Homo sapiens: one gene and its partners. The protein of the gene in region 3 purifies or fractionates together with the protein of the main gene of each other region. This does not show direct contact. Each region holds a gene or a part of one and is shown on either strand. Other genes may lie near its edges.

What was found.
Region 1: the proteins of SHTN1 (region 3) and GTF2I fractionate together in Homo sapiens (co-fractionation; one large-scale study listed by BioGRID). This does not show direct contact.
Region 2: the proteins of SHTN1 (region 3) and RNF41 purify together in Homo sapiens (affinity purification with mass spectrometry; 2 studies listed by BioGRID and IntAct, with this or other methods). This does not show direct contact.
Region 4: the proteins of SHTN1 (region 3) and TSNAX fractionate together in Homo sapiens (co-fractionation; one large-scale study listed by BioGRID). This does not show direct contact.

Annotation. Positions count from the first base shown.
Region 1 is NC_000007.14:74,755,218-74,758,717, forward strand, and holds part of GTF2I (general transcription factor II-I), read left to right. Parts: intron 1-291; coding exon 292-320; intron 321-1,602; coding exon 1,603-1,644; intron 1,645-2,741; coding exon 2,742-2,783; intron 2,784-3,500. UniProt on the Homo sapiens protein: Interacts with the basal transcription machinery by coordinating the formation of a multiprotein complex at the C-FOS promoter, and linking specific signal responsive activator complexes.
Region 2 is NC_000012.12:56,208,423-56,211,922, forward strand, and holds part of RNF41 (E3 ubiquitin-protein ligase NRDP1), read right to left. Parts: intron 2,147-3,500; coding exon 1,875-2,146; intron 1-1,874. UniProt on the Homo sapiens protein: Acts as E3 ubiquitin-protein ligase and regulates the degradation of target proteins. Polyubiquitinates MYD88. Negatively regulates MYD88-dependent production of pro-inflammatory cytokines.
Region 3 is NC_000010.11:116,995,188-116,998,687, reverse strand, and holds part of SHTN1 (shootin-1), read left to right. Parts: intron 1-3,500. UniProt on the Homo sapiens protein: Involved in the generation of internal asymmetric signals required for neuronal polarization and neurite outgrowth.
Region 4 is NC_000001.11:231,538,669-231,542,168, reverse strand, and holds part of TSNAX (translin-associated protein X), read right to left. Parts: intron 1-3,500.

The sequences.
Region 1 (3,500 bases), on a different chromosome or scaffold from region 3:
AAAGCCCCTTCCGTTCTTCCGTATGTTAAACTTAGAATCACTCTGTTCCCTGCTCTGCGTTTCTATTTTTTGTTTTTCCTCCATTTACTAGTAGCTTAACACTTTCTAACAGTGTTCTTATTATTGATACGTATCTATCTCTTCCATAAGCTTATAAGGTCACGGATAATACTTCTCATTGTAGTACGTAAATGACGTGGGCTAGATATGAGTTGAATAAACAGTTATACCTGTAAATTCTTACAGAGTGAAAATAAATTGTTATACTTTACAATTTGTTTCTCTCTTTAGACCATTTCCAGGACTTGTGATTAATAACCGTGAGTATTTTGTGAAGTGTTTTGTTTTTGTTTTTTCCTGGGGTCTGACGTGTGTGCGTGTGAGTGTGTATACATGCTTAACGTATATCACGTTACTTCACCTATGTCAGTAACCAGGCCAAATACTTGTTTTAGCCCTCAGTAAAAACACCAGGCACTTCCTAGTTGTAAAATTATTCAAGCTTCTTAACTTCCTATCCTCGATGCACTTAATCATAAAATGGTAATAATAGCACCGATTTTGGGGGAGTCGTTCCAGTAGATGGAAAGCATCTGGAACAGGTGTCAGCAAGCTCCTGCCGACGTGTATGCATAAAGTTTTATTGAAACCACCATCGTGTCCATTTGTTTATGGCAGAACTGAGAGATGGCAGCAGCAAGTGTGTGCCTGCAAAACCTAAAATATTTACTAATTGGCTCTGCAAGAAAAGAGTTTGCATCCCCCTAACCTAGAACAGTGTCTAGCCTCTAGTATGTGTTTAGCCTACAGTATGTGCTCAGCGAATACAATCTATATTTATTACTGCTTTTATGACTGTTATAATTACTGTGCTTGGATTTCGTTACAAAGTAAGTCACAATGTGCCTGCTTCTGTTAGTATTTCAGCACAGTGCCTGGCACACATGGGGCTCTCAAATATTGCTGAGCGAGTGAACAAATGTCCTTTCAATTCCTTAACGTTGATGTCATTTTCAATAGTATTTTGAGCCAAACTTAATTTTGCGAGTGTGTTTTGTTTTCTTAACTTTATTATTAAAAATGTATAAAAGTGAGGCCAGGCGTGGTGGCTCACGCCTGTAATCCCAGCAGTTTGGGAGGCTGAGGCAGGCGGATCAGTTGAGGTTGGGAGTTGGAGACCAGCCCGTCCAACATGGTGAAAGCCTGTCTCTACTAAAAATACAAAAATCAGCTGGGTGTGGTGGCACGTGCCTGTAATCCCAGCTACTCAGGAGGCTGAGGCAGGAGAGTTGCTTGAATCCTAGAGGTGGAGGTTGCAGTGAGCTGAGATCGTGCCATTGCACTCCAGCCTGGGCAACAAGAGCAAAACTCTGTCCCAATAAATAAATAAATAAAATGTTCTCTTTTGTTCCTGTTCTTGTGCGGTAGTGTGGTATAGAGTTTTATGGTAATTACTGTGAATTAGTGATTCTGAGGGACATATCAGAACTCTGAGGTTTGTTTCCTTCTCATCTTGAGGGAAACAGCAAATGTATGTTAAAATGCTTTTCCAAGGGAACAACACATCCTTACATTATTTAAACCAATCTGCTTCATTTTCAGAGCTGGTTGATCAGAGTGAGTCAGAAGGCCCCGTGATACAAGGTGAGCGAGGCAGGGGAGGGCCCGGAGCTACTCCTGCCTGCACAGTGGCACAATGGCGTGCCTGCGTGTGGCTTTGGCTCTCAGTCACCTGCCCTGAGGGGACTCAGTTACACAGCACACACATGCTTCTCTGTGGTTTTCACTCCTGGGTTTGACAGCTGATCAAAACATAAATTCAAGCTGTGGGTCCTGATTGAGAACTGGGGGCTGCAGACCATTTGCACCCCCTATCCCAGCTCAGGCCTAACATCAGGAACCCCAGGATTAATGGGTAGGATGAAATGGCAGAGCAAGAGGGCCGTCACTTTAACCTGACTCTGCCATCCATTTCTAATGTCTGCCATAAGTCAGTGAGCAAAATGTTCTTCAGTAGAAATGTACACATTGTGCTCTTAAAAAATTCCTTAAAAAACAAGTGGAATGGCCTGGTGCTGTGTGAGTCATTGAAAGTAATGAGACTGGGCGCGGTGGCTCACGCCTGTTATCCCAGCACTTTGGAAGGCTGAGAAGGGTAGATCACTTGAGATCAGGAGTTCGAGACCAGCCTGGCCAACATGGTGCAACCCCGTCTCTACTAAGAATACAAAAACTAGCCAGACGTGGTGGCGTGTGCCGGCTACTCAGGAGGCTGAGGCAGGAGAACCGCTTGAGCCTGGGAGGCGGAGGTCGCAGTGAGCCAAGATCGTGCCACTGCACTCCAGCCTGGGCAACAGAAAGGAGATTCTGTCTCAAAAAAACAAACATACGAAGAAAAACAAAAAAAGTAATGAAAAGCTTTTATTAAAGGGAGTAAACAGAAGGATAAGGGAGAAAGCATAACTAAGGAGCTTGTTTTCATGGTAGAGCTATGTTAAGACTCTGCTCTTTCAAACTTCAGTTGCATATGTGAACTTAGGACCACATTTGAAAAACAGAAATTTGAAAGTACACTTGGATAATCGTGTGCTCCATCTCAAGACCGTGAGCATTGTTTCATCATGCACCTGTGTTTGTACAGAGTCTAGAGGGCTTTTCTCCTCTTCCTCCTCCTGGGTTCTTTACATAGTATAAAGCAGCTGTTGAACAATGTGGAAATCAGTCTCTGTGTTTCTCTTTAGAATCAGCTGAACCAAGCCAGTTGGAAGTTCCAGCCACAGAAGGTAAAAGGGTGGGGTGGTCCTGCAAGTCCTTAAGACTTCTTCTTTCTTCTTCTTCTTTTTTTTTTTTTTAAAGACAGAGACTTGCTCTGTCACCCAGGGTGGAGTGAGGTTGCGCGATCTCTGCAACCTCCGCCTCCCGGGCTCAAGCAGTTCTCCTGCCTCAGCCTCCCGAGTAGCTGGGATTACAGGCCTGCACCACCATGCTTGGCTAATTTTTGTATTTTTAGTAGAAACGGGGTTTCACCATGTTGGCCAGGCTAGTCTCAGACTTCTGACCTCAAGTGATCCGCCAGCCTTGGCCTCCAAAGTGCTCGGATTACAGGCGCGAGCCACCTTGCCCAGCCAAGACTTTTTTATCAGGACAAAGGATTGTGCATTTAAACTATTTCACTAGAACTGGGTGGTGGTTTTGCTCTCTTTCTTCTGGGTGAATTGGATTTGCAGGTTATGCTGTTGAGTGATGACGCATAGCTGCTTTTGCTCCATTTCCCCCAGATGACTTGGTAAATTCTCCGTGAATGACTCTGCTACATAACCTAGATAACCTAACGTGTGTCCTTTAAATGCATGTAAGCCAGAAGATGTATGTTACTTTGAAAACATAAGTAACAAAATTTTGAATGTATTGCTAAAGAGATGTCTCTCTGAAGCTCTTTTGATGTTTGGTGTCTTGTCCTTCTTATTAAACCATATCTTAGTAAATAGTTTGGTACGAAT
Region 2 (3,500 bases), on a different chromosome or scaffold from region 3:
TTCAGGCCTCCCTCTTGTTTATTCCCTTCACTTTCTTCGTCCAAGCTTCCTACTTGCCCCTTTGCTGTCTATTTTCCTTAAATTTCTTTCCCCAATCAAGACACAGTGTTTTATCTATTTTTTAAATTTATTTTATTTTGTATTTTTATTATTTTTTTTGACACGGAGTTTCGCTCTTGTTGCCCAAACTGGAGTGCGATGGCATGATCTCAGCTCAGCGCAACCTCTGCCTCCCAGGTTCAAGCGATTCTCCTGCCTCAGCCTCCCGAGTAGCTGGGATTACAGGTGCGCGCCACCATGGCCGGCTAACTTTTTGTATTTTTAGTAGAAATGGGGTTTCTCCATGTTAGCCAGGCTGGTCTCAAACTCCTGGCCTCACGTGATCTGCCCCCCTCGGCCTTCCAAAGTGTTGGGATTACAGGCGTGAGCCACCGCGCCTGGCCTTTTTTTTTTTTTTTCGAGACCAAGTTTCACTCTTGTCACCCAGGCTGGAGTGCAATGGCACGGTCTCAGCTCACTGCAACCTCCGCCTCATGGGTTCAAGTAATTCTTGTGCCTCAGCCTCCCGAGTAGCTGGGATTACAGGTGCCCACCACCACACCTGGCTAATTTTTATATTTTTAGTAGAGATGGGGTTTCACCATGTTGGCCACGCTGGTCTTGAACTCCTGACCTCAGGTGATCCGCCCGCCTCGTCCTCCCAAAGTGCTGGGATTACAGGCGTGAGCCACCGCACGGGGCCTATTTATTTATTTTGACACACTGTTTTTATCTACTGCACAGCTCTCCTTTTCCTCCTACAGATTCTGCCTGTGCACTTATTCCTTCAGAGAAGCCCTATATTCACAGCCCCAGCTATCAACATTCTTTTTATTTTTTAGTTAGGGGGAACAGAGTCTCATTCTGTCACCCAGGCTGGAGTGCAATGGCGCGATCTCAGCTCACTACAACCTCTACCTCTGGTTTTAAGTGATTCTCATGCCTCAGCCTCCTGAGTAGCTGGGATTACAGGCGAGCACCACCACACTTGGCTAATTTTTTTTTTTTTTTTTTGAGACGGAGTCTCGCTCTGTTGCCCAGGCTGGAGTGCAGTGGCTCAATCTCTGCTCACTGCAAGCTCCCCGTCCCAGGTTCATGCCGTTCTCCTGCCTCAGCCTCCCAAGTAGCTGGGACTACAGGTGCCTGCCACCACGCCTGGCTAGTTTTTTGTATTTTTAGTAGAGACGGGGTTTCAATGTGTTAGCCAGGATGGTCTCAATCTCCTGACCTCGTGATCCACCCGCCTTGGCCTCCCAAAGTGCTGGGATTACAGGCGTGAGCCACCGCGCCCGGCCCCACACCTGGCTAATTTTTGTATTTTTAGTAGAGACAAGGTTTTGCCATGTTGGCCAGGTTGGTCTTGAACTCCTGGCCTGAAGTGACTTGCCCACTTCGGCCTCCCAAAGTGCTAGGATTACAGGTGTGAGCTAACATGCCCTTCAGCTATCAACATTTAGTCGAATATTTCATAACCCACAGAAATAAAAAAATAGGGCAAGAGGAAATATGAGAAGGCTGGCAATTATAGCAGTCAACCTGACAAACGGAAAGTAGTATTGGACTGAAAGGGAAGAATAGAGTCAATCAAGCTTTAATGTTATTACACAAATTTACTAAATTGCTGTGCCCCTTCTTTTGTTAAAGCAAGAGCAAAATGATTATAGTTGGAAAAGCAGCAAGAAAGTAAGATCTTAGAGCAGGAAGCCAAGGAGGCTAAGAATACTCCTTGCCAACATGCCAAAGAGACCTCCTCAGCTAGTGAGGAGGGCAGCCAGAGACAGGGGCATAAATGAGATGGCCCTTATCCATGTGGGGCAGAAGGGAACAAATCTCACCCACAGCCCTGTTCACAGGTCACAGGCCGCTTCGGGTTGTGCTCACAGTCGCTGAGGTGAGACATGAGGTTGTCAAGCCGGACAACGGCACTACAGCCGAACACAGCGTTGTCACAGGCAATCTGCAGCTTTGACAACATGTTCCGCATGATCCGAGGTACTGGGCGCAGATGGGCGACCGTCACAACACTACGGTCCACTGGACATGTCTGTTGCTGAGAGAACCACTGGGTGATGCAGGCGTTGCAGAAAGCATGTTCACAATGAGGTGCCTAGAAGAGAGAACAAGGCAAAAGGGGCGCAAGGGAATTAGCAGGACCTAAGAGCCTGGATATGATATAACTCTACAAAGCCAATCAAGCCTTTGAGCAGCCTCTACGACAAGAGGTCCACTGGGTCACAGCAAAGTATAGATCTACTACGGGCAAGGCATTGTAGGGGACAGGCTTAAGATACGTTTCCTGCTGGGCACGGTGGCTCATGCCTGTAATCCCAGCACTTTGGGAGGCTAAGGCAGGCACACTGCTTGACCTCAGGAGTTTGAGACCATCCCAGACAACATGACAAAACCCCATCTCTACAAAAATTACAAAAATTAGCCGGGCATAGGCCGGGCGCAGTGGCTCACGCCTGTAATCTCAGCACTTTGGGAGGCCGAGGCAGGCGGATCATGAGGTCAGGAGTTCAAGACCAGCCTGACCGACATGGTGAAACCCTGTCTCTACTAAAAATAAAAAAATTAGCCAGGGGTGGTGGCGCATGCCTGTAATCACAGCTACTCAGGAGGCTAAGGCAGGAGAATAGCTTGAACCCAGGAGGTGGAGGTTGCAGTGAGCCAAGATCACACCACTGCACTCTAGCCTGGGCAATACATCTCGAAAAAAAAAAGCTGGGCCTGGTGGCACGTGCCTATAGTCCCAGCTAGCCAGGAGGCTGAGGTGGGAGGATGGAGGATGGCTTGAGCCCATAAGGCGGAGGTTGCAGTGAACCAAGACTGCACCACTGCACTCCAGCCTGGGTGACAGAGCCAGAACCTGTTTCAAAATAAATAAATAAATATATATATATATATTCCCTGTGCTCAAGATTAAAAATGAGTTGTGAAACAAGACAAACAAGTAAAAAGTTATATAACAATAAGAGATACAAATGATATTCTAGGACAATAGGACAGATGACACAAGGCAGCCAATTATTAATTGCCATCTGGATTGCATACACAATAATTGCCAAAAATGTCCAGAGGAGGGTGAGGTCTTTTCAGGCTAGCTCAATCACGGCAGGTATTTATGAAGAGGACAGAATTTGATATGGGTCTTGAAGGATAATTCAGATGATAGATTTAGAGAGGAGGAGGACATATTTACTGGCAAAAATTCAATGTAAGAAAGCTAGGCCAGGCATGGTGGATGGCGCCTGTAATCCCAGCACTTTGGGAGGCTGAGGTGGGCGGATAATGAGGTCAGGAGATTGAGACCATCCTGGCTAACATAGCGAAACCCTGTCTCTACTAAAAATACAAAAAATTAGCCGGGCGTGGTGGCGGGTGCCTGTAGTCTCAGCTATTTAGGAGGCTGAGGCAGAAGAATGGCGTGAACCTGGGAGGCAGAGCTTGCAGTGAGCCAA
Region 3 (3,500 bases):
GATAAGCTGACATTGATGGAGATACTGTAGTCCCTGCTTACCCATGGAGGAAGCTATGTTTCAACACCTGCAGTAGGTGCCTGAAATCATGGATAATAACAAACCCTATATATTCCAAGTTTTTTCCTGTGCATACGTATCTGTGATAAAGTTTAATTTATAAGTTAGGCACAATAAGAGATAATAAAAACTCATAATAAAATAGAACAATTATAACAATATACTGTAATAAGAGTTATGTGAATGTGGTCTCTCTCTCTCTCTCTCAAAATATCTTGTGGTACTGTAGTCATCTATTTTCATACCATGTTGACCATGGGTAACTGAAACCCTGAAGAGTGAAACGGTAGATAAGAGGGAAACTACTGTCTGTCAGAGACACAAGAGCCGATGGAAAGAACATCCAATGTCCAAAGACGGAACTCTGAACAACAGAATATTGGATTATAATTCAAAATTTGAAGTAATATTCATGAGTTGATACTGATATAAATAAATGATTAAAGACAAATCTCCCATGCAGAGCAATTCCAAATAATTTATGTAGATGTTCCCCCTCAAAGCGGTGTATCTTAACTCCCTGATTCTTTTTTTTTGAGACAGAGTCTCGCTCTGTCCCCCAGGCTGAAGTGCCGAGGCATGAGCTCTGCTCACTGCAAGCTCCGCCTCCCAGGTTCACACCATTCTCCTGCCTCTGCCTCCCGAGTAGCTGGGACTACAGGCGCCCGCCACCATGCCTGACTAATTTTATGTATTTTTAGTAGAGACAGTGTTTCACCGTGTTAGCCAGGATGGTTTCGGTCTCCTGACCTCGTGATCCACCCGCCTCAGCCTCCCAAAGTGCTGGGTTTACAGGCGTGAGCCATCGCGCCTGGCCCTAACTCCCTGATTCTTAAGTGTGGGCAGCACATAGTGAATTCCTGCCAAAGACTACAATATGGAAAAGGGGGAACCAGTAACTTTACAGTGGAGAAACCTGACAAACACTATGTCAGCTAGATGATCAAGGCCAACATCAACAATGATGATAGCATGATAGTGTGATGTGATGAATTGGCGTTTTACCTCTGTGGTCTTCCCCTAAAAACCCATAAAGCCAGTCGACTCATGAGGAAAATATCAGCAAATCCCTATTGAGAGACGTTCTGCAGAATACCTGATCAGCACTTCTCCCAACTGTCAAGGTCATAAAAATGAGTAAAGTCTGAGAAACTGTCATAGTCAAGAGATGCCTTAAGGATTGAAGGGTAGAAAAAATAATCTGTCCCTCAAACCTTGTAAGTTCATAATTGGGACAGATACCTGTAACAAAAGACATGAACAAGCAAGTTTATTAATGCATGCAGTGCACATCGCAAGGGAGAAAAATAAGCAGTGGCTCAACATACTGTCTTCAACAAAGAACTATACATTTAGAAAAGTGTTAGGACAAAGGAAAGCAGTTCCAGGCTTCCAAAGGCAGGAGAATGTGGGAAGGTGAGTTTATGGGGAAACTCCTGGGGTAAAGTCTACTCGCAGATTTCTCTGCCACCATCTCTGAGGTGATATGGGTTGTAAAGGAGAATGGGTATCTTGTTTTTAGGTGGGAAATGGGGAGAAGATAGACCTCTTGTCTTTGTAATTCTGTGTCCTGCTTTTAGGCAGACAGAGGGAAGGCAGATAGTTTCCTTCATCCTAATTATCTTTAGCTCGAAGGTCTTTCATATTTTGGGGAGATAGGCTGGTTTCCTTCAGTTCTCCCCTTTGAAACTTTACTTTCAGAAAGTCTCACATATTATGTGCTAGGCTGGTAGCTTTGGAGAGGTATGGTTGTAGATAAGTGATTGGCAAAGGGGAAGAAAACCAGATTGGAACCAGCAGAAAAGAACAGATTTAAGTATATTGTCTCATATCTTATTGAGTCAGTCTCTTAGTCCTGAGACTAGGTTAGTTTAGGTAAACAGTCATGTTTTATTTCAAGAGGTGGTGTTATGGGTGATCTCTTTAATGTTAGGTTTCTATATGTATAAGCATACAAATACTTAATAAGAGACATTTCTATGAAAAAAAAGGAAAAGCAAGGTTAATGTTTAGAGCAGTCTATAAATTAGTTTCTGAGTCTGGAGAGCAGCCAGTTGAGAGGATTTATAAATCTTAGGCTCAAAGTGTCTTCAGCTGGAGTGGGGCAGGCAATTGCAATCTGACAGATTTTCCTTGTTTGTAGTTTAAATATCATAAAGGTTGTCGATACAAAAGCTGTTGTGGTGATTTCTCTTATGTTTGTATCAAGTTGTCCAGCTTTAGCTTGCATAGCTTCAGAAAAAGCCCAATTTTAATTTCAGTGATTCCAGGTCAAAGGGTGGGAGAAAAATTGGAAATGTTAGTTTGGAGACTCACAGCCAGGTATCAGAAAAAACTAAAAGAATTTAGGATCCATTCCAGATTGCAGGTAGTTAATAAAATCTCAAAAACAATGAACAGGGCTAGAATCTAGTAATGGGTGAACTATAGTTTCTGAACTATTATTTTTCTGAAAATATTTTTCCTCTCTCACACTAATTTCTACCAAAAAGAATCAGTAAGACCAGTTTATTTGTAAAATAAGTTTTTGTCTATTATACTTGGCCTAATTATTTACATAAATGCAGCAAAAATAGTGATTGACTATGTAAGCCCTTTTAAAATCTGCTTTGCTGGAACTCTTCATAAGGAATCTCGGATTAGGCTTACAAAAATGCCTCCTTAGGCTAAGAAGCCAAGCTTAGGACTCAACATCAGATTGTGCCTATAGTAGTCTTAGATAGATAGCTCTCTTCCCTAGATTCCTGATGTTCCTGGGCCTGTCAGGAAGGTGACATTCTTTACCCTATAAGGCAACCATTTGAACCATGTATTCAAGGTACGAGGCCAGTATTTCCAAGGTGCCTTTATTGGCCCCATTAAACTGAGGTTCCTCTAGGGACCTCAGTTCCCAAAAACTGGTCATATCAGAAAATACGACATTCTCATCAAACTTTGGCAATATAACCAGTATTTTCAATTGTATCCTATTAAAAGAAGAACGGATTCTTCCTGAACTTATGCAAATGCCTATATTATCCTAAAAATAAGAATACTCATGAATAGTTTCCAAATTTTGGAGGGATCAAGTAAGGAAGAAAAGTAAATGTTTCAATTCTATTTGCAAAAGTATACTTTACCAAATTGTCTTAAGCCATAGATAGCGCAAAAGAAGAAAATGTTTTCCTAAATCTGGAAAATAAAAGAATCAGTAGTGTTTCTAATAAAGTCCTAAAAATCACAGTCCCTCATCATGTTAGTCCCATGTAATTAATTCTTAATTTTGCTCGATGTTAGCAATTTTAGGAGTTCAGTTTCTCCTTTAGATTTCTGGAGTTCATACCTAGTCCACTGGTATTTCCTTAAAGTTATCAGAGACCTGTACAGGTCAGAGTTCTTTTTGTTCTTCCCATATACCTCCTTGAAGACCCAAAACTTTAGGATTATAATTGCTTGCAAAA
Region 4 (3,500 bases), on a different chromosome or scaffold from region 3:
ACTAAAAAGAAAAAATAAATACAGAAAACAATGGTTACAGACACTGGACTACAGGCAGCATGGAGCAGTGATCCCTGGGGAAAGGGAGGAGAACAACATATACCCTCTGACTGCCCCATCTTATTGCCTGGAAAGCTTCCAAGTGACAGTACAGAGACAGGAAACTTAGGTGGAGCCTGGGAGTCAGCCTGAGTAGAAAAGGAGTTGGGAGTTTTGGGGGATCGAGACAGCTAAAATTTGCAGAGCAGAGTAACAATGAGGAGAAAGCTGTATAAACAGAGAGCTTCAGAGATTTATAGAAGCAACCTCCTCAAGTCTTCAGTTGAGTACTGATCAGTGCAGGCATGTGAGGAAACTACCTAAGGCTGGAAAAAGAATTGCCCAAAGTGAGCAGGCAGAACAATCCCCTTAGTTCACAGAGCCGGAAAGAATTGATTTATCATCAGCAGATTGACACTACAAAAAATATTAAAAGAAGTTCTTTAGGCAAAAGGAAAATGATACCAGATAAAAATCTGAATCTATACACAAAGGAATGAACATTTACAAAAATTGGTAAATGTGGATAAATATTTTTCTTATTTTTAAATCATACTGTTTAAAGTAAAAATCATAACATATTGTGGAAACAACAAAAGTAGAAATAACATGAATCACAACAGTAGCACAAAAGGCCAAGCTAGTAGAGGGGAAATGGAAAAGGAAGTATAAGATTTTTATACCATACGCGAAATGATAAGTAGTCCTTACTTTGCATGGTACTGTGTTAACTGAAACTTGGGCACATCAAAACTGTGACCTTCACTGGCAAAGTAACTGTTACCAAAAAATCATGCAAAGTGAAAAGATTCTTGTATGCACAAATTTTAGTAAACACAGTATTGTACAAAGTGAGAATAGTTGACAATAAGATATATATTATGAACCATAAAACAATCACTACAAAAACAAAACAAAAAAGGCATAGCTAATAAGCCTACAAATAAGATAAAATGGGATCATAAAAAATTATCCAAAATAAGGCAGGAAGGAGAGAAGAATAGATGGTAGATTTAATTATAACCATAGCAATAACTGCATTAAATGTAAACGGTCTAAACACCTGCACTAACAAGCAGAGATTTTCAGAATGGATTTTTAAAAAGCAAGAGAGACAAGAAATCCATGTTAAATATAAACACAAATAGATTAAAAATAAAAGGATGAAAAGATATACGTTCTAATAACAATCAAACGAAACAGGAGTAGCTATATTAACATCAAACTTTGGGCAAAGCCTATATCCAGGGATACCATCATAATGATAAAGGGTCAATTCATTAAATGCATAACAATCCTAAATATTAATGTACCAAATAAAAGAGCTTCAAGATACTTGAAGAAAAAACTGATAGGACTTCAAGGAGAAAGTCAAATCTACAATTATCGTCAAGAGAGGTCACCCTCTTTCTCTCTTAATAACTGATAGAGCGAGTGTACAGAAAATCATAAGGAAATAAGTGACGCGAACACCACTATCAGCCAATCTGACTTAATTACACCTAACAATAACAGAATACACACTCTTCAAGTGCACACACAACATTTACCAGATAGACCATATCCTGGGCCAAAATTAAGGCTCCATAAATTTAAAAGGATTCAAATTATAGAAAGTATGTTCTCTGACCACATGAAATTAAATTAGAAATCAGTATCAGAAAGTCGTCTGGAAAACTCCCAAAATATTTGGACACAAAATAACATACTTAAATTATTCTTGGGTCAAAGGTGAAATCAAAATGAAAATTAGCACCAATAAATTTCAAAACTTAGAGGAAATGGCAAATTCCTTGAAAGACACAAACTACTGAAGCTCACTGAAGAAGAGTTATCTATGTCTATTAAAATAATTTTGTAGTTAAAATACATGAGGTCCTCTCACAACAGTTTTTCAGCTGTACTGTGACTGGCTCATTTCTTTCATAAAGTTTTTTTTTTTTTTTTTTTTTTTTTGAGACAGAGTCCTATTCTGTCACCCAGGCTGGATTGCAGTGGCACAATTCTGAGTTCAAGCAACCTCCGCTTCCTGAGTTCAAGCAATTCTCCTGCCTCAGCCTCCCGAGTAGCTGGGATGCCACCAAGCCCGGCTAATTTTTATATTTTCAGTAGAGACAGGGTTTCGCCATGTTGGCCAGGCTGGTCTCAAACTCCTGACCTCAAGTGATCTGCCTGCCTTGGCCTCCCAAAGTGCTGGGATTACAGGCATGAGCCTCCACATCCAGCCTCTTTCATGAAGTATCTTTACTTTCCTGAAGTTTCTAATATTTCTAAAGTTTCTATTTTTTTCTTAAGTTTCTTATTTTTCTGAAGTCTATTATTTTCTCAGTTTACTAGTCAAAACTGTATGAACAGTATGATCACAACTATGATAAAAAACAGTGCACAAAATAAGAAATCTGCTAGTTGATAGAGGCTATCTTTGGGTACTACAGACTGATTTGTCTCATTAAGTAGCTTTACCTTTCTGCCATTCGTAATTTTTCTAAAGACTACCATTTTCTAAGTTTACTATAATGAGCATTTATTTTTTGGTGGAAAAATATTTAAAAGATGACTTCACACAGTAACGCAGATTTTTCTAAAATATTAAGGTCTCCTGTCATATTCCTATTACAGGTTGAGCATCCCTAATCTGAAAATCCGAAATCCAAAATGCTCCAAAATCCAAAACTTTCTTAGCAACAAGACACTCTAAGGAAATGCTCACAAGAGCACTTCAGATTTCAGATTTCCAGATAAGGGATGCTCAACCCATACATTATCTGCAAGTATTCCAAAATCCGAAATCCAAAACACTTCCAGTCCCAAGCATTTAGGATACTCAATCTGTATGTTTTTCTTTATATTATTGCTTTTGTTATTTATATTACTGCTGAATACTGATGGCAATTGTTTTAGAATTGTAATAAGTACTAAAAAAAAGTGTCCATAATTAATAAGAACAGTATTGCTTCTTTCGATAATACAAGCCTTATTATGTACAAGCTATCTAAGAATGATATGAGAAAACAAGCAAAAACTAATTTTACACAGTCAGGTAAGAAAAAGAAAATGTTAACAGTGCCATATTTCAATAAATCTATGTATGGCAAATTAGATTCCATTTAATGAAGTAAAAATTAAAATGTGAGAATTATCTTAAAAGTTTCATGTTACTGAACGGAATACTTCAGTATCTTTTTTTTTTTTTTTTTTGAGACAGGGTCTCATTCTGTCGCCCAGGCTGGGGTACAGTGGCACAATCATGGCTCACTGCAGCCTTGACCACCTGGGCTCAATCAATCCTCCTGCCTCAGTCTCCTGAGCAGCTGGGACTACACTTGCATACCACCATCTCCAGCTAGTTTTTTGTATTTTTTGTAGAGATGGGGTTTTGCCATGTTGCCCATACAGGTGTGAGCCACCATGCCCGGGCAATAATATCTTCAATAACGAAAAGCTAATAAATTATATGTGAT